2 separate regions of the Homo sapiens genome follow, and region 1 is linked to region 2. Evidence: fine-mapped expression QTL. Tissue or cell type: whole blood. Region 2 holds a variant in brackets; the other region holds the start of a gene. All regions are shown on one strand. Distances are between the middles of the regions.

Evidence for each region. PIP is the estimated chance that this variant, and not a neighbour inherited with it, causes the effect.
Region 1: it holds the start of DHRS12, and the variant in region 2 is fine-mapped to the expression of DHRS12 in whole blood (TOPMed, PIP above 0.99).

Annotation. Positions count from the first base shown.
Region 1 is chr13:51,802,486-51,805,103 of GRCh38, reverse strand. DHRS12 (dehydrogenase/reductase 12) reads left to right here and starts at 941. Exons shown (of 9, transcript NM_001377533.1): 1 at 941-1,050. LOC107984561 (a long non-coding RNA gene) reads right to left here and starts at 1,268. Exons shown (of 2, transcript XR_007063805.1): 1 at 303-1,268. RefSeq lists enhancers at 61-190, 2,576-2,618 and a silencer at 741-1,380.
Region 2 is chr13:51,917,567-51,920,326 of GRCh38, reverse strand. It overlaps a transcript of TMEM272 not described here. Among named protein-coding and RNA genes, the nearest start is that of CCDC70, 57 kb to the right of the region's middle. The variant G/A (reference allele first, on the strand shown) is at 1,231.

The sequences.
Region 1 (2,618 bases), 120 kb after region 2:
AAAACTTGCCCACTGTGGAGTGAGGTTGGACAGTGATCCTATATCCTAGGTAATGAGGCTATTAAAGCAGCTGGTCTCTTCAGCTTATGTAAGTGGGGCCCAGTCTCTGGGCGACTTGGGTAAACCGGTATAGAATTTAACAGGGTGACTAGGAGTGACAGCAGCAGTAAGACCCCCATTTCTAATGTGGCGTTAGGGCTGGAGGTTAGATGTGGACAGGGGTGTCTGAGTCCTACATAATGGGGCTGGATGACTAGTCTGAGATCTGGGTTCACGCAGCAACCACACTCTTTTTTACTCACACTGTTCATCTGGGCTTGGGTGGAAAGAGGCTGATGAGGATTTGGGGGAAATCAAGGGGCTCTCCCTGGCATTGCATGAAGTCGCAGAACCAGTGGCAAAAGTCCAACTTTGGAGACAATTACTTCTCGGGTGGGAGCCCCAGCCCTGCCTCTTGCCTGCGATGTCGCCAATCTGACTGCGCTTGCTGGAGACGGGAAATGTGGCACGGCACTGCATCCCCCAACACGTGTAGAAACTTAGAGAATGCCAGTTATTAAAATAACCCTTATGATAACACCAATTCGATGCAGAAGTCTTTTAAATATCATAAGCCTCGTCGTTTTATTCCACATGGTTTTCTAGGTAACCAAATTCTAGGAGGTGCGTTGCAGGGCCATCTTCGCATCCCGGCCATGCCCAGCAGGACGGTGTTCTCTAAACGGCGCTGATGCCCGATTTCGACCCCGAGGAGACTGCGGACCTCGACTGCGGCCCCCACCAGGGCCGGTCCGCCCTCACTCCACCCTCTGAGGCTGGGGCGGAGTCGACCGGCCGGCCCCGAGACCCCTTGCCTTACCGGTGGAGCAAGGAACCGGAAGCCGCGGCTCTTACATAACCGGGATGATGTCAGGGCGGGCGACTCCCGGGGGGCGGGACCAGGGCGGAGGCCGCGCCGGGAGCGCGGTGGGGCTAGGCGTGGGGCGCTCCCGGCATGTCCCTGTACCGCAGCGTCGTGTGGTTCGCCAAGGGGCTGCGCGAGTACACCAAGTAAGGCGGCGCGGCGGGGCGCGGGGCCCCGGGCTGTCACGTGGCCCGCCTCGGCGCGGGCGAGCAGGGTTGGCGGGGACGCGCCCGCGGCTCCTTCGCCCTCTCGCTGGGCCGACTAAGCGTGTCCAGAACGACGGGTGCGCCCGCCGTCTAGCGACCCACGGCTGGGCGTGGGGCAGTCGCCAGACTCCAGCCGCTCAATGCCCGCGACCGAGACTGGCGCCCGAGGGGCGGGGCTGTGGCGCGCCCAAGCCCAGGGCCGTCCCACTGACGTCAGGCGGCCCCGGCGCCAAGGAGCCTCTTGGGCGGCACCTCGGCGCCCCGCTGGGTGTGCTCGTGGAAGTGTCTTCGTGGTGCTGCTGGCGGCGTCAGATAGGGCTGGATCTAAATCGCTAGCTAAGGCTCTGTCCTAGTGCCTTTGGGTGTGTTTCCTTTAAAAAGATGCAGCACCTGGACTGCGACCTTTGGCTCCAGCTGGAACTTTCCAGCCAGTGTGTGCTTCTGGGGAACGGTGCGTGGTGGTTTCGTCGCCCCGTGACCACGCTCAGTGTGCCCTAGTTGGCTCTCCACCTCATTGTGGTTTTAAGAGGTGACAGGTTCCTGTGACGGAGGAGAGATGGAGGTTTTCTCTTAGAATTGATTAGGCTAACCGCTGGTTCTCAACCCTGTCTGCACATCAGAATCACTGGGCGAGAATTAAAAGTACCCAGTTTTCAGGCCCCATCCCTACAGATTCTGATTTAGTGGATCTGCACAGGGGCCTGGACTGGCATTTCATCCAAATGCCCCAGGTGATTCTCACCTCTGAGAGGCTTCTCCCTGCACTGGGGCTTTATCAGTTCCCACGGCAACCTGGCCAGCACTCCTAGGGGAGGTAGGAGTTGCAACTCCCTGCTCTTCACCCCACATCGTTTTGGAGAAGGTTCAGCTCTGTCTCAGGAGCCCCTGCTGCAGAGAATGGTGGGGAGTGTAGTCGTGAGCCCTGTCCCACAGTTTTTAGGGGAATACAGTGGCAGCCTCTTTCTTTCAAAGGGGTGTCCTCTGGCAATGACCATTAATTGCTGGATCTTTCCACATTACACAGCATGAAAGCTTAAGTCAGTTTCCAACCAGGGGTGGGCCCCAAGGAAAGCAGACTGTAAAAATTTCTCCCAGGACTCTTTCGCTCTGATTTCCCCACCTTGAGGGAAGGTAGAAGTGAGGCCAAGGGGCCCAATCCACCACAGATTGGTGGGGGAAGGGAGGGGAGGGGAAGGCAGTTGGCAAAGTTAGATGGGTTTTCCTGCTGTTGTGGATTTAGTGAATAGGAGAGAAAAACAACAACCTTGTTTTGACTTCAGTGTGAGAGCGCGGAGTTAGAGTTTACAACGTTTCTCTTGGCACAAGGATTTTTATAAAGCCTCCCTATATTGGGCTCCTAAGGCAGGAGGATCTAATCACTGTTTCCTAAACTTTGCTGAACCTAATAATTCCCTGGGGCAGTTTTAAACAGACTCCTAAACCCTGGGCAAGTGTGGATGGGTCCTAAGCAAATTTCATATTTGGGTAAATTGAGGGTGTGGGGAGAC
Region 2 (2,760 bases):
CTGTCAAAGTCTTATCTTTTCTCTGTCAAGTCTTAGCTGGCTTGAGACCATGTAGTTCCCTTCATCTGGAAAATGACACCAAATATTCTATAACTAGCTGTTATCAGACCCGTTTCAGGAGCAGTGCAAAATACAGGCAGCAGCGCAAAATACAGGCAGCAGCTCACATCTTTCTGCTGAGAGGTAAAACGCTTGCTGAGAGTATGTTCTTTGGTTGCAGGCATATACATTGCTATTAAAATGCCTCTTGGATTCCTCACTGCAACGTCATACCTGGACTTCCACAAAATAATTCCACGTATTGCCTAGTCCTTAGCTCCTGAGCCTGGTGATAGAAAGCCTCCCTCCCTCCTTTCCTTCCTTCCTTCTTCCTTTCCTTCCTTCCTTTTCTCCTTCATATTAATCCACTATGAGCTAGGCATGATGCATTAATAGCATAGAGATGAAAGTACTCACTTTCTTTGCTTGCATTTGAGTGGGGGAGTCAGAAAAGCAAACAAGCACAAGAAAATGTCACAGGGACGGTGGCAGGTGAGGAGAGCGACATGCTCACGCAGGTGCGCAGCAGGAGACCTGCAAAGGCAGGTCACCATGGCACCGTTTGCTCGGGACACAGCCGAGACGTCTGCTTAGGGAAGTGGACAGACAACTTGCGATGTGTGTCATAAGAGAAAGTATTTACTCTGCAGCATTCAGAATGAACCAACAGGATCTGTGTGTATCAATATGGGGAAAACACAGTGTTGAGTGAAAAAAATTACAGATACTTAAAGAGTCATGAAGATTAAAAAAAATAATTTTATGTATTGTTCTAGACACCAGTCTCTGTGGTCAAAGTACAAACATGGTCTGGGGCTATATACCAAGTTCAGATCGGTGGTTTCCTATGGGGAGCAAGAGAAGAGAATGGGGTCTGGGAGAGGTGTGTCGGGGCCTTCAGCTATATTTGTAACTTGTTATTTCTAAAACTATGAAGCAAATGTACCAAAATGTCAGCACTGGTTAAATCTGGGTAGTGGGTCAGGGATTTTGTCTTCTTATTCTCTGTATTTATATACATATTTAAAATATGTGTAAATTTTTAAAAATACACGTGGGTCTGGTGTTTGTAGAGAGGGCAGGACTAAAGCTATAGCATTGGCTCACCTTCACAGCAGGCTCAGGTGAATCAGTGGGCTGGGGAGTTTCACCTGGGCCTCGGCACTGGCCACTGGCACTTCACACAGAGGC[G/A]AGCAAGGGCCTTGGGAAGCACTTATTTTTCACAAAGCAGGTAGAGAAAGAGAAGGAAAAGATGGGAATAGGAGGTTTCAGAAAGGAGCAGAGCCAGGAGAGATGTGTCATAAGGAGGTCCAGGAAAGAAAAATAATTTCTAATTATGGGGCCGGTCATGGTGGCTCATGCCTGTAATCCTGGCACTTTGGGAGGCCAAGGTGAGTGGATCACTTGAACTCAAGAGTTCGAGACCAGCCTGGGCAACATGGCAAAACCCTGTCTCTACAAAAAAAAAAAAAAAAAAAAAAAAAGAATTTCAAAAATTAGCCAGGCATGGTGACGTGTCCCTGTGGTCCCAGCTACTTGGGAGGCTGAGGTGGGAGGATACTTGAGCTGGGGAGGTTCAGGCTTCAGTGAGCTGTGATTGCACCACTGTGCTCCAGCCTGGATGACAGAGCAAGACGTTGTTCCAAAGACTAACTAAATAAATAAAAATAGTTTTAAAAATTACATGGAAAATGTCAATTGCTTTGTATGTAGAAATACAGAGACTAAGAGTGAATCCCCATATACCCACCCTGAACATCTTGAATTAAATAATTGTCAAGGTTTTGCCATATCATTTTTGCTTCTTCTATTCCTCCTTTTCTTTCTTTTTCTCTTTTTTATTTGCTGAAGTAATTTAAAGTAAATCCCGGATGCCATGTCTTTCCACCCCTTCATACTGCCTTGTGCAATTCTAAAATATCCAGACACTGAGAAAGATTTTTAAAGCGGGAAGTGTCAGTCACATTAAATGTTACAGATGACTTGAGATGAGGACCAGGGGGCTGTCAGGAAAGTTCCAGGATGGAGAACAGCTGAAGGTGCAGAGGTGGCAGGAGGAAGTGCTGACCCCCAAGGCATTGCTGGAATTGGCACTAGGAGTTCACAGAGGGCCTTCGAGAGAAACATTCAAGAAATGCCAATCATTATTTTGAGAACTGTGATGGTAAAGAGGAGAAGGAAGATCACCTTTGAGCATGCAGGGATGAGGCACAGAAATATTTTTAGGATGGAGAGAGATCGATATTTGGAAGCTCAGGTGACAGGTATGAAAAAGGAAGCAAAACTGATGGAAGAAATTCCCAGAGGGACAGAAGGGAATGAGAGGACACTGGGATGAATCTCTCAATAAACAGGAAAGAAGTTACTGAAACATCTAGAGGTGGGAGGAGAAGGGCGACATTCTTGGAGGACACTGAGTTTGCAGTTTGGGACGTGAGAATTCGGAACTCCCTGGGGCAGAGACCAGGGTCAACCCAGAATTGTGATGATATTGTGATTTATCGGGTAGCTGCTGCAGGCACTTTTGTCATCTCGTTTAAGCCCCATCAATGCATTTTGCAGCTCAGAAACGTGAACTCAGAGATGTTAAGTAACTTAACTTGCCCAACACATACTTAGTAATTAGCAGAATTGCTTTTAGCGCAGAGCCCTTCTACACAGCCCTGAGGAACACTGTCCTTAAACCACAGGACTCGCTGGTAGCACCTGTCCTCAGTAGCG